7 linked regions of the Homo sapiens genome follow. The protein of the gene in region 1 purifies or fractionates together with the protein of each later gene. This does not show direct contact. Each region holds a gene or a part of one and is shown on either strand. Other genes may lie near its edges.

The links.
Region 2: the proteins of LOXL3 (region 1) and SETX purify together in Homo sapiens (affinity purification with mass spectrometry; one large-scale study listed by BioGRID and IntAct). This does not show direct contact.
Region 3: the proteins of LOXL3 (region 1) and POGLUT2 purify together in Homo sapiens (affinity purification with mass spectrometry, with the first as the bait; one large-scale study listed by BioGRID). This does not show direct contact.
Region 4: the proteins of LOXL3 (region 1) and EDEM1 purify together in Homo sapiens (affinity purification with mass spectrometry; 2 studies listed by BioGRID and IntAct, with this or other methods). This does not show direct contact.
Region 5: the proteins of LOXL3 (region 1) and MSI2 purify together in Homo sapiens (affinity purification with mass spectrometry, with the first as the bait; one large-scale study listed by BioGRID). This does not show direct contact.
Region 6: the proteins of LOXL3 (region 1) and MSI1 purify together in Homo sapiens (affinity purification with mass spectrometry; 2 studies listed by BioGRID and IntAct, with this or other methods). This does not show direct contact.
Region 7: the proteins of LOXL3 (region 1) and HSPG2 purify together in Homo sapiens (affinity purification with mass spectrometry; one large-scale study listed by BioGRID and IntAct). This does not show direct contact.

What each region holds. Positions count from the first base shown.
Region 1 is NC_000002.12:74,534,270-74,536,943, reverse strand, and holds part of LOXL3 (lysyl oxidase homolog 3 isoform 1 precursor), read left to right. Parts: intron 1-15; coding exon 16-235; intron 236-472; coding exon 473-653; intron 654-793; coding exon 794-948; intron 949-1,188; coding exon 1,189-1,356; intron 1,357-1,489; coding exon 1,490-1,652; intron 1,653-2,169; coding exon 2,170-2,413; intron 2,414-2,512; coding exon 2,513-2,628; intron 2,629-2,674. UniProt on the Homo sapiens protein: Protein-lysine 6-oxidase that mediates the oxidation of peptidyl lysine residues to allysine in target proteins.
Region 2 is NC_000009.12:132,344,910-132,348,491, forward strand, and holds part of SETX (probable helicase senataxin), read right to left. Parts: intron 1,563-3,582; coding exon 1,352-1,562; intron 1-1,351. UniProt on the Homo sapiens protein: Probable RNA/DNA helicase involved in diverse aspects of RNA metabolism and genomic integrity.
Region 3 is NC_000013.11:102,788,975-102,792,556, forward strand, and holds part of POGLUT2 (protein O-glucosyltransferase 2 isoform 1 precursor), read right to left. Parts: intron 3,163-3,582; exon of another isoform or gene 3,035-3,162; coding exon of another isoform or gene 3,020-3,034; intron 2,457-3,019; coding exon 2,284-2,456; intron 2,165-2,283; coding exon 1,927-2,164; intron 248-1,926; coding exon 38-247; intron 1-37. UniProt on the Homo sapiens protein: Protein glucosyltransferase that catalyzes the transfer of glucose from UDP-glucose to a serine residue within the consensus sequence peptide C-X-N-T-X-G-S-F-X-C. Can also catalyze the transfer of xylose from UDP-xylose but less efficiently.
Region 4 is NC_000003.12:5,194,192-5,197,773, forward strand, and holds part of EDEM1 (ER degradation-enhancing alpha-mannosidase-like protein 1), read left to right. Parts: exon of another isoform or gene 1-774; intron 775-1,017; coding exon 1,018-1,090; intron 1,091-3,582. UniProt on the Homo sapiens protein: Extracts misfolded glycoproteins, but not glycoproteins undergoing productive folding, from the calnexin cycle.
Region 5 is NC_000017.11:57,672,483-57,676,064, reverse strand, and holds part of MSI2 (RNA-binding protein Musashi homolog 2), read right to left. Parts: intron 1,148-3,582; coding exon of another isoform or gene 1,094-1,147; coding exon 939-1,093; intron 1-938.
Region 6 is NC_000012.12:120,342,998-120,345,164, reverse strand, and holds part of MSI1 (RNA-binding protein Musashi homolog 1), read left to right. Parts: intron 1-2,059; 3' UTR 2,060-2,167. UniProt on the Homo sapiens protein: RNA binding protein that regulates the expression of target mRNAs at the translation level. Regulates expression of the NOTCH1 antagonist NUMB.
Region 7 is NC_000001.11:21,853,737-21,857,318, reverse strand, and holds part of HSPG2 (basement membrane-specific heparan sulfate proteoglycan core protein isoform b precursor), read left to right. Parts: coding exon 1-34; intron 35-123; coding exon 124-304; intron 305-1,406; coding exon 1,407-1,532; intron 1,533-1,643; coding exon 1,644-1,796; intron 1,797-1,872; coding exon 1,873-2,015; intron 2,016-2,335; coding exon 2,336-2,471; intron 2,472-2,553; coding exon 2,554-2,708; intron 2,709-2,975; coding exon 2,976-3,126; intron 3,127-3,582. UniProt on the Homo sapiens protein: Integral component of basement membranes. Component of the glomerular basement membrane (GBM), responsible for the fixed negative electrostatic membrane charge, and which provides a barrier which is both size- and charge-selective.

The sequences.
Region 1 (2,674 bases):
CTCCTGTCCCCCTAGGCTGCTAGCCCAACGGCAGCAACACTCCTTTGGTCTGCATGGGGTGGCGTGCGTGGGCACGGAGGCCCACCTCTCCCTCTGTTCCCTGGAGTTCTATCGTGCCAATGACACCGCCAGGTGCCCTGGGGGGGGCCCTGCAGTGGTGAGCTGTGTGCCAGGCCCTGTCTACGCGGCATCCAGTGGCCAGAAGAAGCAACAACAGTCGAAGCCTCAGGGGGAGGTGTGTGAGACAGTGATTATGACCTTTCCCACCCCAGGTGGAGAACCCCTAGCCTGGCAACCCCAGACTAAGCACAGCCCTGACCTTTGAGGACAGAGAGGAGCCTTCCAGGGGGTGGGCCACAGACCTGATACCACCCACTCCCTTCCACCAAAGTCTCACTCATCTCCCAGGTCTGCTTAGCCCTCCGTGCAGATGTTGCCATTTGCCTCTGTTGGGCACTTCTCTCTTCTATAGGCCCGTGTCCGTCTAAAGGGCGGCGCCCACCCTGGAGAGGGCCGGGTAGAAGTCCTGAAGGCCAGCACATGGGGCACAGTCTGTGACCGCAAGTGGGACCTGCATGCAGCCAGCGTGGTGTGTCGGGAGCTGGGCTTCGGGAGTGCTCGAGAAGCTCTGAGTGGCGCTCGCATGGGGCAGGGTGAGGTGGCATGGAGGTGGGAGGGAGAGGGAAGGAGGTACATGCTCCTGGGGGGCATATTCCTTCGGAAGGTTAGGTGTCCCCTGGGCAGACAATATATGCTTAATTACAACTTCCTGATCTTTGCCATCTGGCCCTAGGCATGGGTGCTATCCACCTGAGTGAAGTTCGCTGCTCTGGACAGGAGCTCTCCCTCTGGAAGTGCCCCCACAAGAACATCACAGCTGAGGATTGTTCACATAGCCAGGATGCCGGGGTCCGGTGCAACCTACCTTACACTGGGGCAGAGACCAGGGTCAGTCATCCTCTCTACCTTGGTTGAGGTCTCTTTCATCCTATCCAGGTCTGGTCTCCAATCTACAGTCCAATGGCCCCCAGCCCATTGCCCCAGGCCCCTGCCCTCCTGCAGCTCCCACCTGACCCATCACTTGCTAGCCCATTATGTGCCTGAGTCACGCTTCAGCCACATCTGTTAGAGACTCCCACTACCTCACCCCAAAGCTTTCTCCAGCGCTTCCATTCTGTGTCACTACAGATCCGACTCAGTGGGGGCCGCAGCCAACATGAGGGGCGAGTCGAGGTGCAAATAGGGGGACCTGGGCCCCTTCGCTGGGGCCTCATCTGTGGGGATGACTGGGGGACCCTGGAGGCCATGGTGGCCTGTAGGCAACTGGGTCTGGGCTACGCCAACCACGGCCTGCAGGTGAGTGGGAAGGAAAGGGGAGCCGAGGCTGTTGTCTCAAAGCCTGTGTTTTGGGCAGAGGGCTGAGGAATGAGTCCCTTGGCCCAAGATGCTGGATCCTGGGCCTTACAGAAACATCTGCATATGTCCCCAGGAGACCTGGTACTGGGACTCTGGGAATATAACAGAGGTGGTGATGAGTGGAGTGCGCTGCACAGGGACTGAGCTGTCCCTGGATCAGTGTGCCCATCATGGCACCCACATCACCTGCAAGAGGACAGGGACCCGCTTCACTGCTGGAGTCATCTGTTCTGAGAGTGAGTGAAGGAGGGGGTGATGCATGCCAGGGAAGGGAGTGTCTGGGCCACCCGTTTGCAGGGAAAGGGGGCTGTAATCTGGAGGGGCACTTCTTCCCCATAAAAGAGCCAGTTTCGCCGGGTGCAGTGGCTCACGCCTGTAATCCCAGCACTTTAGGAGGCCAAGGCGGATGGATCACGAGGTCAGGAATTCAAGACCAGCCTGACCAAGATGGTGAAACCCTGTCTCTACTAAAACTACAAAAATTAGCCAGGCGCAGTGGCAGGCGCCTATAATCCCAGCTACTCGGGAGGCTGAGGCAGGAGAATCACTTGAACCCAGGTGGCAGAGGTTGCAGTGAGCCAAGATCACGCCGCTGCATTCCAGCCTCGGCAACAGAGTGAGACTCCATCTCAAACAAACAAACAAACAAAAACAAAAACAAAAAACTAGTCTTACACACTAGGGAGGGATGGAAGCACCCCTCTCTGTGAAGTCAGCAGTGACTTCTAACACCCCCTTCCTTTCTTGGTGCAGCTGCATCAGATCTGTTGCTGCACTCAGCACTGGTGCAGGAGACCGCCTACATCGAAGACCGGCCCCTGCATATGTTGTACTGTGCTGCGGAAGAGAACTGCCTGGCCAGCTCAGCCCGCTCAGCCAACTGGCCCTATGGTCACCGGCGTCTGCTCCGATTCTCCTCCCAGATCCACAACCTGGGACGAGCTGACTTCAGGCCCAAGGCTGGGCGCCACTCCTGGGTGTGGCACGAGTGCCATGGGTGAGAGGGTAGGGAGTCAAGTAGAAGGGCAAGACCACGGGGGATGGGGCAAACCTTCTGGGGGCAGAGAAGGAAACAGAAGTTCCCTTCTCCCCACAGGCATTACCACAGCATGGACATCTTCACTCACTATGATATCCTCACCCCAAATGGCACCAAGGTGGCTGAGGGCCACAAAGCTAGTTTCTGTCTCGAAGACACTGAGTGTCAGGAGGGTGAGTTGGGGACTGAAGTGAACCACATGGTATCCATTGCACAGCC
Region 2 (3,582 bases), on another chromosome or scaffold:
TTAGGGAAATGCCTTTACTTTCAAGAGATTCGTATTATGAAATGCAAATATCAACAACCAAAATCTAGACAGCTATAATAAGCCATGCCATAGTGGTTAATGAAAATTACTACAGAATAGCATTTCCCAACCAGGGGTGATTTTATACCTCACCCCCCAAAAGGGGTATTCAGCAATGTCTGGAGACATTTTTGGTTGTCACAAAGGAGATAGGGAGTGCTAGCGGCATTTAGTAGACAAAGGCCAGGGATGCTGCTACACATCCTACAATGGACGGCACAGCCCACAGCAAAGGATTATCCAAAATGTCACCAATGCAAGGCTGAGAAACCCTGCCACAGACATACTACAAGAATGAAAATTATTATTATTACTATTTTTTAAGACAGAGTCTCTGTCTGTCACCCAGGCTGGAGTGCAGTGGCACAATCTTGGTTCACTGCAACCTCCGCCTTCCAGGTTCAAGTGATTCTCCTGCCTCAGCCTCCTGAGTAGCTGGGATTACAGGTGCCTGCCACCACACCTGGCTAATTTTTGTATTTTTAGTAGAGACAGGGTTTCACTATGTTAGCAAGGCTGGTCTTGAACTCCTGACCTCAGGTGCTCTGCCTGCCTCAGCCTCCCAAAATGATGGGATTACAGGCGTGAGCCACCATGCCCGGCGAGAATGAAAATTATTAATAATTGAACAAAGAGGTGAACAGATACGTAATAAAGCAAATATAGCAAAATGTTAACAACCGTATAAACTATGTGATGGGTATATCATGTTCACTGTATAATTTACTTTTCTATGTTAAAAAATTTTCACAATAAAATGTTGAGAGCCAGGCATAGTGGCTCGTGCCTATAATCCCAGCAATTTGGGAAGCTGAGGTGGGAGGACTGCTTGAGCCCAGGAGTTCAACACCAGCCTGGGCAACAGTGAAACTTCATCTCTACAATAAACACAACATAAAATTAGCTGGACGCAATGGCACACGCCTGTACTCCCAGCTACCCACAAGGCTCAGGCAGGAGTATTACTTGAGCCCAGGAGGTAGAGGCTGCAGTGGGCCATGACTGCGCCACTGCACTTCGGCCTAGGAGACACAGCAAGACCCTGTCTCTAAAAAAAAATAAAAACAATCTTCAGTTACCCTCTGAACAAGATAAGTTTGAACTGTGCCCCAAAAATAGGTATTTTGTGTTTGAACTCAAAAAATAAAAAACGTTGGAAAAAAAATGAAGTCCTAATTATATATCCTAATTATATGTTTAGCAAACAAATTTGCAATATAGATAAGCCTAAATTCTTATGGTACTAAAATAATAAAACTGATATAACTTGAGGAACCATCAAGATACTCACTAACACGTTCATGTAGAAGCAAGTAAGGATATTTCAGTATTTCAAGAAGAGGAACTCGAAGCTTATTTTCAAAGTCTTGCCCAGTGATGTCAAACAGTGGCATCTCTCCATTATTGTCTACTATATATAACTCATCATCATCTCCAATTTCTGCCTTCATGGATTTTTCAAAGTGATTTATGAGACGTAAGGTTTCTAATTCCCATAAAACCTAGAGGAAAATAAAATGGGCAGTGTGCGTTATGTCTTATCATCAACAAAATACACTGAATGTGACGACCTAGAAAGCCTTTTCCTAAGTACAAAAATTCTGAAATGTAAAGTATTAGAGCTTGTATTTTAGATTTAAAGAAAACTATTCAAATGTGGCCACTTTTATGAAAAGTGAGTACACAGAGTATGAGATATTGGCTAGGCACAGTGGCTCACAGCTGTAATCCCAGCATTTTGGAAGGCTGAGGTAGGAGGACTGTTTCAGGTCAGGAGTTCGAGACCAGCCTGGGTAGCAAAGCAAGACCCTGTCACTAAAAAAAAAAAAAATAGAAAAATTAGCTAGGTGTGGTGCATGCCTACAGTCCTAGCTTCTCTGGAGGCTGAAGCAAAAGGATCACTTGAGCCCAAGAATCTGAAGCTACAGTGAGCTATGATTGTGCCACTGTACTCCAGTCTGGATGACATAGGGAAACCCTGCCTCTAAGAGAAAAAGAAAACAGGCCAGGCACACTGGCTCCTGCCTGTAATCCCAGCACTTTGAGAGGCTGAGGTGGGCGGATCACCTGAGGTCGGGAGTTCAGAACCACCCTGACCAACACGGAGGAACCTCGTCTCTACTAAAAATACAAAAATAGCCAGGCGTAGTGGTGCATGCCTGTAATCCCATATTCGGGAGGCTGAAGCAGGAGAATCGCTTGAACCCAGGAGGCGGAGGTTGCAGTGAGCCAAGATCACGCCACTGCACTCCAGCCTGGGCAACAACAGGGAAACTCCATCTCAAACAAAAAACCAAACAAACGAAAAAAAACAAGAAAACAAAAAATAGTATGCTATGTTTAAACACTTTTTATTTTTTTTTGAGACAGAATCTCGCTGTCGCCCAGGCTGGAGTGCAATGGCGTGGTCTCAGCTCACCGCAACCTTGGCCTCCCAGGTTCAAGCGATTCTCCTGCCTCAGCCTCCTGAGTAGCTGGGATTACAGGCGCCCACCACCACGCCTGGCTAATTTTTGTATTTTAGTAGAGACGGACTTTCACCATGATGGCCAGGCTGGTCTCAAACTGCTGACCTCGTAATCCACCTGCCTCAGCATCCCAAAGTGCTGGGATTACAGGTGTAAGCTACAGCACTCAGCCTTAAACACTTCTCTTGTAGAAGTTTTCTATAAATATCTCAACATCCCTATCAACTACATTCAAAAAAAAAAAAAAGAGAAGCTGGAGCCTCTCTGTCAAATGCAAAACCGAGGCCCTTCTATGTCTTCCCTTCTATGTTCTAGCCATAGCTAACTACCTTAGTGCAGCTTGTGGTATAAAAGACGCTGGATAGCTTCATAATTAGAAAACTTTATAAAGTGCACGTTTCTCAACACAAGTCCATTACTAATCATCCTCTCCTCTATATACTGTATATATCTCTATGGTCTACGTTCTGTTTTTCATCAATAAATAAACCAAATATTCAAAGCCAAATATTTAGAATTATATCTTTCACTTTTGTTATCATGACTGGAAAATATGCTTGCCCTTAAAGGTTTATGCCATTTGCCCATTAAAAAAAGAAAAAAAGAAGTTATTATTACCAATTAAAAAAAAAAAACCCTGGCCAGGCGCAGTGGCTCACAGCTGTAATCCCAGCACTTTGGGAGGCCGAGGTGGGCAGATCACCTGACGTCAGGAGTTTTGAGACCAGCTGGGCCAACATGGTAAAACCCCATCTCTACTAAAAATAAAAAATTAGCCGGGTGTGGTGGCACGTGCCTTTAGTCCCAGCTACTTGGGAGGCTGAGGCAGGAGAATCGCTTGAACCCACCTGGGAGGCAGAGGTTGAAGTGAGCCAAGATCACGCCACTGCACTCCAGCCTGGACAAGAGAGTGAGACTCTGTCTCAAAAAAAAAACAAAACAAAAAAAAAACAACCCACTAACAAAAACCCAGGCCATTCAGATACTCAGATACATGCATGTATTATAGCACTGACCAAAAAATTATGAAACAAATCCCCTCCCAATGACTTTA
Region 3 (3,582 bases), on another chromosome or scaffold:
ACAAGTGGAAATAAGCCTTCAAGGGGACTAACCTTACCTCTTCATCGTGATCTTTCGCCCATTTAAGTTTTTCTAGCAGATCGCTCAGGTTGCTCTTAACTGGAATGTAGTGTTTCCAGGGCTGCAGCTCATTGTAAAAATGTTCATAGTAGATGGAATCCTGCTTCAGCACAACACTGTCACCAACTAGCAAATATGGCAGGCGATAAGCTGCTACAGTGCCATCGATATTTATTTGATACTTATGCTGCAAAACAATGGTAAAGTCTAAGAACCTCTATTAAATCTCCTTTTCTCCACTCTATTCTCCTTCCCATCCCACACATAAACCTTTGCAATCCTCAGACACAATTTGGTCAGCTTCCACGCTCTGCCTTTGCCGTTTAGTAAGTGTTATTAAACAACAGGTTGATCTAGAGCTAAATGCTCATTTTGATGTGCTTCTCAATTTTACAAAGGATACAAATCTAGTGTTGAAGCAGCGAATACAATCATACTGCTGTCCTAAGGCTGCAACATAAGGAAGGATGGATTCATTTGTGACTTTTTGTAATTCTCCTGCTACTTTATTGATTGCAAATGTGCCCCTAATGATGGCATATTCTGAGCCATGTTAACCGTATTATTTATGTATTTATTTTGAGACAGAGTCTTGCTCTGTCACTCAGGCTGGAGTGTAGTGGCGTGATCTCAGCTCACTGCAACTTCCACCTCCTGGGATCAAGTGATTCTTGTGCCTCAGCATCCCCAGTCGCTGGCATTAGAGGCACGCACCACCACGCCCAGCTAATTTTTGTATTTTTAGTAGAGATGCGGTTTCACCATGTTGGCCAGGCTGGTCTCGAACCCTGGAACTCAGGTGATCTGCCTGCCTCAGCCTCCCAAAGTGCTAGGATTACAGGCGTGAGCCATCACGCCTGGCTAACCGTATTTTTTAAACACCCAGACATATGTCTTAAAGAAATTAGCAAGCTCTGGAGCAAGAACACCTATGAATAAAAATATTCATAGAACTGTGGTAATCTATCATCTTTAGTTGCAGAAAATTCAACAGGCAGGAATAAAGCCAAGGCAGGATGGAGCACCCCTCCACTGAGGAAGGTTGGCTAGTATCCTTTCACTTTGGTTATAATCATTTCTTTCAAAAATCTTTGGGATATGCATATAGAAAAATACTGACAATTCAACTTTAACATTGAACAAGGTTAACATTTAGGTCAACCTGCCTCAACAAAACCCATCAAAAGAAAATTTGGTCATCTACAGGGCAGACAGAACTCGTTAATCACTTGTCTTCCCACATACAGAGGACAGATGATGACCTTTTTCCCACCTCTCTCTCTACCATGGGGGACTTCAGAAACAACTCCATGGTCTAAAGAGCAGGGTGGTGCCCACTGCCTTATAAAAGGAGTTGTTAGAAAAAGGACTACTCCCCAGGAACCATGCGGAATCCACATTCTAGACAGAGAAAGCAAACCCTAATTCCCAGACAGAACATTTGGATGAGTTTCACGTCATTCCCCACCAGAAGGCCTGGTAAGAAACAAGTAGTTTATATCTTCCTTATTCTGTTGTGATAACATGGCTCTGGGAAAAAGTATTTGTAAAATGACTTACATGTAAGTATTAATAAAAACATATTTGGAGGTGACATGTGCTTATCTCAAGGGTTAGCTGGAAAAAAATTATAGCTCTATCCAGGCTCCAAACTCCCTTGATGCGCATTTAATATCAAGACTGGGCAGTGAGGGCAGACCCTGGTTGCCAAAACAGTCCCCAGCACCCCCATGTCTCAATATTCGCTCAATTTTGTGCTAACTTCTCCCACCTCTTGAAATTTGCAGGCCTTAATTTCCCTTCCCAAAGCACTATGTACAAATACATTAGAAAAACAAAAAAGATTAGCTACTGATTAAGTCATACCTTGAAGAAATCAAAAAATGAAATATGTTTCACAATGGGACCATACAGGTTTTCATCGTGTTTAAAGAAGAAAAAGTTGGTGAAAGCAGCGTCTATGAGTTCTGGGTGTTTTCTACTGAGTTTAACCAGCTCGAGTCTCTCTTTGCGGCTGTCTCGCCCTCTCCAGACGGCAGTGGAATTTTTGCTTTCCCAGGGAGGACCCGTGTTAGCTTGCACGGACATCATATCCAGACTTACCCTAGAAGACAAAGTGCAACAGATTTTCCTCCCAAATCATCATATCACAAAGGTTGTTGCAAAAGAACTCACCAAAGAAAGAAAACCAAGGCTCTGGGCCAACCCTGACTTATCTCTCACCGGCCCATGGTTTCCAGAACAGAATCAGTCAAATCGTACGTAGGCATCACGATATCCTTGGAATCTGTGGAGCCACACCAGGAAAAGATCGGATGGATGTTTGAATTGGATTTCTTTTTTTCCAAAGGCCAGTCTCCCAAATTAACAAAGAGCTCCACATCTGGCATCTTCACCTAGAAAAAACAAAACGAGGAGCTTATTCACATTTCCTGCATTGGATAATACATTGTATTTATCAATTTAAATTTGAAATTGCATTAATGAAAGGCCAATGTTACATGTTTCAGGTAATAATAATTACCTTGGTTTGAATAGTGGGCAATGTTTCAGAATATGGTCACATGTATAAGTATTCTATGCTCCCTATGAAAGGGATGAAACTGCAAAAGTAATCTCTGTTCTAATACTGCGAACAGCCTCTAAGATGATCAAAGAGAAGGAGAATTATTGGAAAATAATTTAAAAAATAGCACTTGGGACTCTAACCCTAGTTTCCTGCTAGTGAGCCAGATGGTTCCATTTTAAAAAACATACACCAGGTAGGTGGTGGGACCAGGATTTGAACTCAGGAAGCCCAACACCAACAGCAACGTAGTAAGTTTCAAGCTATGCTTCCTTCCTCTACTGGCAAATGGCATGAATATGTAAAGAGGATATGTTTTATCTAGTCACAGAAAATGTTTAGAGTATTTACAAAACAACAGATATACATTTTTAAGGCCAGAAAAGCACTGACCAGTCTGAGAAGCATCTTGAGAAACCGAAGTCCTGAAGAACATTCTCATTTTCCCATGGATTGACAAAGAGGAGCAAGAGAAGTATGACGGTACTCTGATGTCTTAGTTTAAAGGAGGCTTAATATTGATGCTATATAACTACCTACATTCAGAATTAACAGACTGTAAGTGCTTTGAAATCTTGAAAAAAAGGCATTATGATTTTCCATGAGTAGTTTAATCAAGATATACATGCAAATTATTCAACAAATAAATATAATAGATTACAAATAAATATACATTTGGTAAAAATGTTGGTAGAGTCTTTCACATCCACCATTTTAACATTACTTTCAAACCATTCCACTAGAACCCAACAAAAGCCCATTATCCCAAGGAATGGGATTCAGTACAAGGCAAGTCATCTTTGGACTCAGAGTTAGTTTAGTACCAAAATAATTTTATGATAAGGCATTTTTCTTTCCTCTATAAAATATTGTGTCCCTGCAAAAGATATGCTGAAGTCTTAAATCCCAGTGTCTCAGAATGACCTTATTTGGAAATAGGGTTGTTGCAGATATTA
Region 4 (3,582 bases), on another chromosome or scaffold:
GCATCTTGCTGGAAATAAAACTGGAGCTTTTTTGCTTTGGTTGCTAATAAAATCTTTAAACAGTTGTCTTATGTCTTCTCTTACTATCATTTTTTCCAAGCTTCTGCACTTATTTTCTGGATTTTTGGGAATGGGACAAATAAATAAATGAAGTCCCCAGAATTTCTCAAACTGTCCTTTATTTTACTAGTTCTTCATCCCTATTCTCCCAGATGTATTAGTTTTTTTGTTGTTGACTTTTTTGTAAAGTGTTACAAAGACATACCACAGTGCCTGAGGAGCTTCACCCTTGTCATCCTGAAGTTGGTTTCTTAAGGTTGTTTCAGAATGGAAAATTGGTGTAGATTATGGGGTGAGAGGTGTGTGGCAGAAACGTTTATGTAGCTCCAGTCAAGAAGTGAGAAAGGCCTCAATTCCTGCCTAGGTTCATGTTAAATGATATCTCAGAATTAACGGAAATAATCAAGACCCTTTGGATGAGTTATTAATGAAGAAATGGTGTAAAGAAGTTAATTTATACCCCCAACCATAGGGCAGATGAGTAATATTGACACTGTCAATTAATGTATTTACTTCTTTTTGTGTGTAATATAGGCTGTGGTGTCTAATTTCTGTATTAAAGTATTACAGGTGGGTCGTATGACAAGGGCTCTTCTTTAGTTCCTAATGATTGTGAAATCAGAGCTTTTTAAAGTTGGACAGGACCAAGGAGATTGTCTATGGTGATAAACCTGAATCTCAGAGAGGAGATGACTCACTGCCTCCTGACTTCCTGTGAGCATTCTTTCCACTCTGGTACAAGTGTGTCTCCACAGTTCTGTGACTTGATTCTACTTATGGACACCATAGAAAGTGTTACTTTGGGGGTAGAAAGACCTTTGCTGTATTAATTCACCCATAATTAGTTCCTGAATAAATAAGAGTTGCTGGCAATTATAGTTTCTGATGGGTGTTTACTTTTATTGTCTTCTCTTTTGAAATAAAGTCTTTTTGTTGAATTTTAATTTTCTTTTTCAGTTCAAATCTGAACATCAATGATGTACTAGGGAACTACTCATTGACTCTTGTTGATGCATTGGATACACTTGCAGTAAGTGTTCACCTTTTTTTAAAAAAATGAATTAAGATGTTTTAGAGTTGATTATCCCTAGTTCCCTCCAGCAGTGGGAATTCCAGGGAGCCTGATAAGTCAAAATGTATCATTAGCTTTGATAACTGTTATTTATTTTAATGACCTTAATGGGGAGAACAAGAAAAGTGTTGAAGGTTAAATGAGGGGAAATGTGATTCCATTAAAAAAAGGAGAAGGAATGTACGATTGATTTTAGGGAACCTATTTTTTTTTAACCAGTTTCTATCTTATTCCCTAAAAGAACCCATAATGAAGCTCATTAATATTGATAATTATAGTCGTTGCTATTCCAGGAGTAAAAGAGAGAAGATCTAAGGGTTGGCAGGTACCCTGAAATGTCATCTAGCCACTGGCTCCCCCAGGAGCAAGTTGGAGCCCTAGCGCCCATCCTTATGTGGGGCTCCCTAGAAACCCTTCTCTTTTATTTGCCACTTCCTGTTTTGTGGACACTCCATGCCTGAGCTGCCAACGTGGGTGCTGGCATTACTGCCTCATCCTGTGGTTTTGCTCATTGACTCTGGAGAACTAGAGGCCTTTGAGCAGATATGCAGAAGCACCTTGAAGGCAGTGTGGCACTCAGTACATGGTGCCATGTCTGTGTGCTTCATCTGCTTCACCTTTTGCCATTAAAGCAGTTTCCAGGGGACTGTATTCCAGCATAGTGTTGTTTTAAAATCTTCTTAGTTAAGGTGATTTTTACAACCTCTTTGCTTTCCTTCATTGTCCAGCAAGTCTTTACCATGAGAAATATCTTATTGCAGTCTAGCCCAAATGTTGTACTTTTATTTATTCTTGTTTCTTTTAACATGCCATAGAAGAGTTTAAAGCTGTCTGTTAGGAGATAGAATTGGGGCCGGGCGCAGTGGCTCACGCCTGTAATCCCAGCACTTAGGGCGGTTGAGGTGGGAGGATCAGCTGAGGTCAGGAGTTTGAGACCAGCCTGACCAACATGGTGAAACCCCTTCTCTACTAAAAGTACAAAAATTAGCTGGGCATGGTGGCGGGCGCCTGTGGTCCCAGCTCTTCAAGAGGCTGAGGCAGGAGAAATGCTTGAACCCAGGAGTCAGAGGTTGCAGTCAGCTGAGATTGCGCCACTGCACTGTAGCCTGGGCAACAGAGTGAGACTCCATCTCTGGAGACACACACACACACACACACACAAGAATTGGGTAATGTGCTAGCCAAGTTTGCATTATGATTGTCTAGTATCTTGCTAGTAGTAGAATTACCAGAACTTGGAAAGAGCTTGAGAGATCATTCTACGTCCTCATTTTATAAATAAGTAGTAGAAATAGGACTAGGCCCTTGGTCTAATAGGAAATCTGGGGTACTGATTTAGTATAATTTAAATTACAAAGCAACTTAGTTTCCCAATATCTCCTTCTGAAGTTATTGCTGCTCTGTTTCAGTCATTTACCATCACTGATCAAAATGTGCCCAGACAAGTATGTTCGACCTTAGAGCTAATTTGTTGATGATACCAGAGGCTGACTCAGCCTACAAGTGTTGCTTAAAGGAAACGTCCTAAGACTCAATGTATAGCTCATGAAAGCCTACTCCTTGTCCCTGAGAGCTTTGTCATCGTCGTCGTCTTTTCTTTTCTTTTCTTTTCTTTTTTTTTTTTTTGAGAGAGTCTCGCTCTGCCGCCAGGCTGGAGTGCTGTGGCGTGATCTTGGCTCACTTCAACCTTCAGCTCCTGGGTTCGAGTGATTCGCCTGCCTCAGCCTCCCGAGTAGCTGGCTTTTTTTTTTTTTTTTTTCCCCATTTTGTTTTTTTATCCCTCCATCTTGCCTGCTATTCTGTTGTTCACCATACTCTCCCCCACACTTAATGGTGTCTGGTGCACAGTAGCAGTGCAAATGTTTGTTCAAAAAATGAATTCTGACTAATGAAGCATTTCCCAACACAGATTCCAAAGATACTTACTCCCTGAAAGAAGAGTTCTGTTTCTAAATGAACTTGAGAAATTCCGTATGTCTGGTCCCACTATTAGAGAGCCACAGTGCCCATCAGCATTTTAAAGACTCTGAGAAGTCCTACAGTCAAACAAACAAACCCATTTAGCTCCTCTGTCCCATTCAGCCATTTTCAAACATTAGTGTGATTTCAGAACATAGTCACTCAGGATTCTATAGCTATCTGACCATAATGATAAACTACAATAAGTAAGAGCTGTTGACTTCCTTCACCTTCCTCACTTGATTTGAGCTCCTGTCAGCACCTGCAGCTTCACCAGATATTGTTGCTGGTAAACATCTGTAAGGAAACAGACTCATCTCTGTGGTTTTCATTGTAGAATATCCGGCCTTTAGTGCTTCAGGCTTATTTTTCAGGTGTTACTTCTGTTGAAGTTTTCCTTTTCTTTTGCTAACATTTAAACAGGCTTTAACAGATGTGCTAGGGAAACACTGTGAAGATAGCAGTCCCCTGACCATTGGATGCAACTTGCA
Region 5 (3,582 bases), on another chromosome or scaffold:
GGGACTGCAGACGCACCCATCTTAGCTCAAAACCAAACTGCCTCCAAAATGCTGAGGCTGGCTAGGGCAAAGGTTGGCCAATTTTCTGTTTCCAAAATGGAAGGGACAGCGAGCAAGTGGGCTCAGGCACATTCATGCTCACACACACCGGGAGGGAGAAGAACAACACAATCTGAAAACAGCATGCAAATCTGTTAAGCAAATTTCCATTGCCTGGATTAGTCAGATTATAGAACCACAGAGCATTACAAATATCAAATGCATCTGGCCTTCAAGGGGTGGAGGCTGCAGCTAAGGAACGCAAATGGGAACTTACTTGGAACCTGGAAACTGTAAGAAACATTAGCAAAGGAAACTGCCTGGGAGAGGGCTTGGATCCCCACACCACCTCCCGGGCTCCAGCGCTGCCACTGGACCTTAGATCAGGGGCTCTATTGACTAAGGCTGCTACTCTGGTGGGGAGCTGGGACATTTCCCAGCTCTCAGGTCCCAGCCCACATGACAGTGTCCAGAAAGCGGGGATCAAGGAAGGTGGCCACTACTGAGGCCCTATTACGTGCCAGCGTGGGACACTGTTTCGAATAATCCTCCCACAATCTTTTGAGGAAAGCATAGAGATTCTGGTTTTGCAGCCAGGGAAATGAGATTCAGACGGGTTATCGAAGTGGCTCAAGGATGCACTGTGTGAAGGTGATGGAGTGGTGATCTGAACCGGACCTGCCCATGCTCCTTCTGCTCCATCACACAGCCACACGAGAGGCACCCAGGACACCTCTAAGACGACGGAGGCTTCAGCCCTCAGGAGCTGGTGTGATGTTGATGGGGACCCTCTGTCCTCTCCTCTGCCCCCGATGTTGGGCTTTCCTGGCACACCCACAGGCCACAAGGAGCTGGTCAGGAAGGAGGAGGCAGGAGGGCAGGGGAAGGCAGGTACTTACAGCTATGCCGTGGCCGAAGCCCGAGCCCGGCTGTGGGCTGGCCGCACTTATGTAATTCCCCACTCCGGAGTCCTGGCTGGCAGGGCCGTAGAGATCGGCGACAGGTCCTGGGCTGTTGGCCCCCGGGAAGCCTCCGGGCCGCGCCGGGTTGGAGCCTGCCGGGGAAGCGGGCGCGCCAAAATTCGGTTGAGCACTGTAGCTATTCAGGACTGGTGTGCAGAGAATAGAGCTGGGTATGAGGCCAGAAGCCAGGCATGCACCGGTCATTACAAGCCAAACACTTGAGAAAAACAGCTGAGGCCCAACTTCTAACACTCAACCAAGGCCATGCGAAAACATCAGCAGGGACTCAAGAATACTCAGCCCAGGCTACTACTAAGAAGCTTGGAGCTCCAAAAATATAGAGAATAAAAAAACAATCATTCAACACACTACGGCAACCAACCGGAGGTGCTTCACTGCCCACCAAATTATCACAATAGAAATAGAGATATATATGGAAGAGAGAGAGAGAGAGAGAGAGTTTTTTTTTCACATCTGAATTGATGCTCATGCAGTCTTCTAGATCTGGGCACGTTGAGACAGCATTCACATCCCATGCAAACTACAAAGGAACTAGTTTTAGACTACACATTGTGTTAATATTGATATTAAAACGTGACAGGAAACAAAGCAATTTGTGTCCAGGAAAAAAAAAATCTTTGCAGAGGGGATTTTTGATCTTTTTTTGTGTGTGTGTTTCACTTTTTCTTTTTGGTTTTTGGATCCATTAAATGACAAATTTGTTTTGTTTTTTTTTTTAAAAAAGACAAAAAAGATCTCCATTCTCCATCCCACCCCCACCACCCGCCCCTCCCCACTGGCTACTCCCTCCCTTCCCGCCCTTCCCATTCATAACACTGAATGAAAGTCATCAATACTGAACGTGGTCGGAGGATGGGATATGTTATGGAGAGTTTGGGCATCTTGACATAACAGTAATGATGGCGGCAGAGAGTTTCCTTTTGGGGTGGAGAGAAGGGGATGGAGGGAGGGATGGGGGGGAATGGTAAACCTGGAGGCTGGGGCCAGAGCTGGGGTGGAAGCCAATGGTTCTACAGGACACCCACACACTCACCTCCTGCAGGAGAAGGAAAGGGGGGATTTAAACTTTTTTTCCTTTTGTTTAAAAAAAAAAAAGACAAAGAAGTATGAATGCAGAACATACCGACTGAACCAATTCATAGCTAAACCATAGCTGACCAAAACACCTGCTTTCTCTTGGTTATCCTGCAATGTCAACTCCAGAGTGAGAACAGCAGGCTCAGGATGTACCTTTGCTACAGAGAGAGTGGACTTGACACGCACAAATCCAGAGAGTGGTGGGGTTGCAGATCGGGGGGCAGCGGAAGGTGACACTGCCTCGGCCCCCCCAATCCCATCATTCTGACCCTAATGAGGGCCGCAGCCTGTCAACCAGTTAACCAGGTTAATTTTGTCTCACCTTTATTTCTCCTTAGTAGTTTAAACTTTATTTTCTTTTCCAAAATGGAAAACAATATTTTTTTAATTGTTAAAGGAAGTTCTTACTGATTTTTAAGCCTCAAGGTGAGTCTGGGCTGGCTACCTTTGGGCTACGGCTAACCCGTCTTAAAGAACCAGACATTCTGAGAGTCACACTTTCACATCTTTGGCTCCAGAGGGCTGCTCCTTGCAACAATCACTTCTCCCTTCTGCCTCCCTTGGCTTCTCCCCCTCTGCCCTATGACCAGTTGCCTTCAATGGCAGAGGCAAAGAACATCGATGCAGGTGGGGTCACTCCTGGCTTTGGCCCCTCCCTTTCCCAGGGGCCTGTGATTTGAGGCCCTCAGTTCTGGTGGGCCTGGAAGAGCCAGAAGTGGATTGATTTTCACCCACTTGTCACAGGGATGGGAAGAGATTGATGAGGCACCCAAGGCACACTAGCAGGAGACTGAGACAGAGACACAAAGATACACGGGAGACCAAATCAAGCTGGGCCTGGCTCCTGACTCAGCAGAGAAAACAGAACTGAAGCCTCCAGATGCCCTTGGGGCGGGAAGCCCGAAGGTGAGCCCCTCTGAAGCTGTAGCTGAGAAATGAATAAACTGGCCAATGGAAAGAGCAGGTTAAAGAGAAAAGAAAAAAATAAATTATAGAGGCTTAGAGCAAGTGAACGGCTGATCTGGGAATGCGCTGGCAGAAAAAAGGGATGGAGATTTTTGAATATAGAAGATTCAACTTGCAGATAACACTTGGCCCTCTCACTCATGGAGGCAAATATGAAGCCGAGATATTCAAAAGGCGGTATTATCTTAGTCTAACACACTTTTTTTCTTCTGAGCTCAGGAAAACAGAAGAAGCTTGGACAGTGGACTCCTGGTTTTGTCCAGGCAGCTGAAACCCCTCCCTATACAAATAAACTAATTAGCCCGTTCCATTTTAGGCTAATAGGATGGGGTGGGCATGAGGAGGCGCAGTGGTAGACGGAAAGTTTTTTGGCTTCTTTCTTGTCTGGCCGGATGTGAACCCAGGAAGGTGTTGGGCAGGCCCACCTAACTAATGGGTGGGGAGAGGCAGGTTTAGGTTTCCGTTTCTTCCAGCAGGAGAGCCACCTAGAGACTAATCTAGCCAGCAGAAGCAGCCT
Region 6 (2,167 bases), on another chromosome or scaffold:
GCCCAGGCTGGTCTCAAACTCCTGGGCTCAAGGGATCCTCCTGCCCTGGTCCCCCAAAGTGCTGGGATTACAGGTGTGAGCCACCAGCGCAGGCCACAAAGATTTTTTAAGATCGTTTATTATTATTACTATTATTTTATTTTATTTTTGTAGATGGAGTCTCGCTCTGTCACCCAGGCTGGAGTGCAGTGGCGCAATCTTGGCTCACTGCAAACTCGTCCCCTGGGTTCAAGCAATTCTCGTGTCTCAGCCTCCCGAGTAGCTGGGATTACAGGCATGTGCTACCGCACCCAGCTAATTTTGGTATTTTTTTTGTTTTTAGCAGAGACGAGTTTTGCCATGTTGGCCAGGCTGGTCTCAAACTCCTGGCCTCAAGTGATCCATCTGCCTCGGCCTCCCAAAGTGCTGGGATTACAGGGGTGAGCCACCGTGCCCAGCCCTATTATTATTATTTTTAATAGAGATGTGGTCTCACTGCCACCCAGGCTGGAGTGCAGTGTGCAATCACAGCTCGCTGCAGCCTGGAACTCCTAGGCTCAAGCCATCCTCCACCTCAGCCTCCCAAGTAGCGGGGACCACAAGAGCATGCCACCATGCCTGGCTAAGTTTTTAAAAAATTTTTTTGTAGAGATGGGGTCTCATTATGTGGCCCAGGTTGGTCTTGAACTCCTGGCTCAAACGATCTTCCTCTGCCTTGGCCTCCCAAAGTGCTGGGATTTCAGGCATGAGCCACCGGGCCCAGCCACAAAGATTTTTTAAGTTGAACACTGCCCAGCATTGATCAAGATATGGGAGAAGCAAGTAAGTACAGTGGCTCAGGGGTTCCCGGGGCAGTCTGGCAGTGTTTGTCCCAGTTTCAAACATTCATGCCCTTGGACCCAACAATTCCACTTCTAGGCATTTATTTTTAAAACTGCAAATAACTGAAATATCCATCAAAAGGAAAGTGGTTAAACAAATTAGTGTGTGTACAGTGGTATAGTACACAGCTATCAAAACAGGATACCTTGGCCGGGCGCAGTGGCTCACGCCTATAATCCCAGCACTTTGCGGGGCCAAGGCAGGCGGATCACCTGAGGTCAGGAGTTCTAGACCAGCCTGGACAACATGGTAAAACCCCATCTCTACTAAAAATACAAAACTTGGCTGGCGTGATGGTGCGCACTTGTAATCTCAGCTACTCGGGAGGCTGAGGGACAAGAATCGCTTGAACCCAGAAAGCGAAGGCTGCAGTGAGCCGAGATCAGGCCACTGCACTCCAGCCTGGGCAACAGAGCAAGACTCCACCTCAACAAACAAAAAACAACAGGATACCTCGACTTGTGGGACTGTGTACACGGCCATCACAGTGTCTATCCAGATGGTGGGAGACTGTGAGCCCATGACATTCTGTTCATTCACCCATTCATTTATGAGCCCCATTCCAGGAAAGAGGATGAACAAGACAGACAAAGTCCTCTCTCATTTCACAGGACAAAAATCAAGTGAACATATGAGATAATTCCAGACTGTGCATGACAGGGCTATTTTAGATGTGGGGTTTAGAGAAGGTATCTCTGAGAAGGGGACATTTAAATAAATCCAGCCATTCGAAATCTGGGGAAAGAGGCATCCAACCAGGGAACAGAAAGTGCAAAGTCTGGCTGGGTGTGGTGGCTCACATTCGTAATCCCAGATCTTTGGGAGGCCAAGGCAGGAGGATGGCTTGAGGACAAGAGTTTGAGACTAGCCTGGGCAATATAGTGAATCCCCATCTCTGCTACAACAACAAAAATGAGCAGAGTGTGTTTGCTTTCACCTGTAGTCCCAGATACTACCTGTAATCCCAGAGTCTCAGGAGGCTGAGGCAGGAGGATCACTTGAGCCTAGGGAGGTTGAGGCTGCAGTGAACTATGATCGCTGTCACTGCACTCCAGCCTGGGCAACAGAGCTGGACTCTGTCTCTAAAAAAATAAGAAGAAGAAAGTAGGTAGTTTACGAACAAAGCTCTTCTGGGAGAGAACTGGGGAGGGCTGCGTGTGCTCCGGGAGCCCCCATAACCTCCTGGCTGTGTTCCCAGCGCCCCAGCCTGCAGCTGACTGAGGACCACGAGTGAGCCAGCGAGGGGGCGGGAGACCTCAGCCGCAGCCGCCGCCCCCTCCCCTGCAGCGACTCGGACCCGCTACTG
Region 7 (3,582 bases), on another chromosome or scaffold:
TGACGTCACCTTCATCTGCACAGCCAAAAGCAAGGTGTGCAGGTCAGGGAGTGGGGATGGAGGAAGTCTGTCTTCTGGGGTCTCTGAGCCCCACCCATGACCCCCTTTCGCCTTGCCCTGCAGTCCCCAGCCTATACCCTGGTGTGGACCCGCCTGCACAACGGGAAACTGCCCACCCGAGCCATGGATTTCAATGGCATCCTGACCATTCGCAACGTCCAGCTGAGTGATGCAGGCACCTACGTGTGCACCGGCTCCAACATGTTTGCCATGGACCAGGGCACAGCCACTCTACATGTGCAGGGTACACCTCCCATCTATACCTGATTCTCCCCTCCTGTCTCTCCCCCATTCCCACCAGAATTAGCACAGCATTTCTTCATTCTGCTGATCATTTCTGAGCACCTGCTGCATGCCTGGTCCTGGTCTAGGCTCTGCAGAAGCAGGGGAGAGAAGCATGTACAGTATCTCGGTCCTCCTGAAGTACACGTCCTAGGCAGGGAGACCATAAGCATGGGAATAAATGAACAAGCAAGATAACTACACATGGCGATGAGTGCCAGGCTAGGAATGATGAGAAAGCAAGAAACAAGGTGGGAGAAGGCCAGGAGCGGTGGCTCACACCTGTAAGCCCAGCACTTTGGGAGGCTGAGGCAGGTGGATCACTTGAGGTCAGGAGTTCCAGACCAGCCTGGCCAACAGGTGAAACCCTGTCTCTACTAAAAATACAAAAACTAGCTGGGTGTGGTGGCAGGTGCCTATAATCCCAGCTACTCAGGAGGCTGAGGCAGGAGAATCGCTTGAACCCGGGAGGCTTAGGTTGCAGTGAGCCGAGATCGCGCCACTGCACTCCAGCCTGGGTGACAGAGCAAGAATCCATCTCAGAAAAATAAATAAAATAAAACAAGGTGGGAGAGGCAAGGGCTACTCTAGATAGGGCAGTCAGGGAGGGCCTCTCTGAGGAGGTGACACCTAAGCTGAGACCTGAAGGAAAGGTAGGCATTGAGCAAGTTAGAGAGTTGGCAGAGTGTTCTTGGCAGAGGGAGCAGCACATGGCAAGGCCCTGAGGCAGGAGCACGTTGCTATGTTTGAGGAACAGCAGAGACCACGTGGCTGGGGCTGTGGGAGGGAGGACGGGTGTGGGCAGACGGGAGAGCATGGAGTATGTGGTGGATCAGGGTAGGAATTTTGGATTTTATTCTAAAAGCAACAGGGAGTCATGGACAGGTCTCAAGGTGGGAGGTCACAAGGTCCTGTTGACATTTCCCAAGCTCCCTCTGGCTCCTGTGTGCACAGATGGCCGTGGAGGGCTAGCCTGGAAGCAGAGAAAGTAGGCAGCAGGACTGTTGTGTGAGTCAGACGACACTCCCCACCCTGAGTGCATGTTCCTTTTCCTCCCTTGTCAGCCTCGGGCACCTTGTCCGCCCCCGTGGTCTCCATCCATCCGCCACAGCTCACAGTGCAGCCCGGGCAACTGGCGGAGTTCCGCTGCAGCGCCACAGGGAGCCCCACGCCCACCCTCGAGTGGACAGGTGAGGCCGTGATGGGAATGACATTCAAGGCCTGACTCTCCTGGGTGTGGGAGGGGAGGGGCAGGACTCTGAGCAGGCTTGGTGGGTGCTGACCCCACGTCTACTCGTCAGGGGGCCCCGGCGGCCAGCTCCCTGCGAAGGCACAAATCCACGGCGGCATCCTGCGCCTGCCAGCTGTCGAGCCCACGGATCAGGCCCAGTACTTGTGCCGAGCCCACAGCAGCGCTGGGCAGCAGGTGGCCAGGGCTGTGCTCCACGTGCATGGTGAGAGGCCGGGCTCAGGGTGGGGGCCGGGAGTGTGCTCAGCCCAGGGCGTGTTCTCACAGGACTCTGTCTGCAGGGGGCGGTGGGCCCAGAGTCCAAGTGAGCCCAGAGAGGACCCAGGTCCACGCAGGCCGCACCGTCAGGCTGTACTGCAGGGCTGCAGGCGTGCCTAGCGCCACCATCACCTGGAGGAAGGAAGGGGGCAGCCTCCCACCACAGGTGAGGAGATGGGCCCACCCAGGAGGAGGAGGCCCACAGGCTCTGCAGAGAGTCCCAGCCACCTTCCCTCCCCCTTCACGCCCCACCCCACCTCCTCCTCTGTGGCTCCCTTCACCTCCAAGATGGTGGTCTCCTGCCCCTGCATCCCAGCAGGGAGCCCCTGCCGTCCTCTTGGCTGCCTGGCGTTTGTCCTCCTTCATGCCCCACTGGGCCCTAATATTGGCCCTGCACCTGCCTCTCCCTTTTATGCCCTATCTGTCCCCCTGGCCAGCCGTTGTCCAGCTGCCTCTGGGGCAGCTGACCCATCTCACCCACGGCAGGCCCGGTCAGAGCGCACAGACATCGCGACACTGCTCATCCCAGCCATCACGACTGCTGACGCCGGCTTCTACCTCTGCGTGGCCACCAGCCCTGCAGGCACTGCCCAGGCCCGGATCCAAGTGGTTGTCCTTTCAGGTACGGACTCTCTGGGAATGGAGGGGTGGGGAGGGCAAGCCAGGGCTCCCCTGGGGCCTGCTGACCCCTACTCTGGCCCCAGCCTCAGATGCCAGCCCACCGCCGGTCAAGATTGAGTCCTCATCGCCTTCTGTGACAGAAGGGCAAACACTCGACCTCAACTGTGTGGTGGCAGGGTCAGCCCATGCCCAGGTCACCTGGTACAGGCGAGGGGGTAGCCTGCCTCCCCACACCCAGGTATGTGGGCCCTGAGCCTATGGCAGGGGACCCAGGGTGCAGGGGCTGTGGCGGAGGCGGGGCCTGTACGCTGGGCGGGGGAGGCGGCACACTGCCCCACACGTTCCACCAGCAGAAGCCAGGCCTCATCTCCCTCCCTCCCAGTTTCTAGCATGGGATGGCTCGGAGCAGAGCCAGTGAGAGTTTGAATGAATCACTGAGGCTGAGGGAGTGGTGACAATAGCCCCCGTCCCTGTCCTCACGTACCTCTGGCTCCTCCTGGCCCAGGTGCACGGCTCCCGTCTGCGGCTCCCCCAGGTCTCACCAGCTGATTCTGGAGAATATGTGTGCCGTGTGGAGAATGGATCGGGCCCCAAGGAGGCCTCCATTACTGTGTCTGTGCTCCACGGCACCCATTCTGGCCCCAGCTACACCCCAGGTGAGGAGCCAGGTGTGGCTGGGCCGGGGCTGAGCCCTAGGAGCTCCCAAGGAAGATGCCTGTGGCTTCTTCAGTGGGACCAGGACAGGGGGGCATTCCAGGCAGGCTTTGACCCTTCAGCGCCTGCTCAGAGAGAGAAGGAGGTTGAGTGGACGGGAGGGAGGTTAAGGCTGGTCCAGCTTACCTGGGCTCCCTATGAGTGACTGTTTCAGAATTTGTCAGGAAGCAGCAGAATGTCCAGGTTGAATACTAAGCTGGGAGTCGGCTGACCTGGTTCAAATCCCAGATCTGCCCCTTAGCAACCTTGAACTAGCTTTTAACTTTTGGGGCCTCAGATTCATCTATGAAATGGAGCAGTACTGCCCACCTGCTTGGTCATGGTGTGGTTTTTTTATTATTTTATTTTATTTTATTTTATTTTATTTTATTTTATTTTATTTTTTTGAGAGAGAGTCT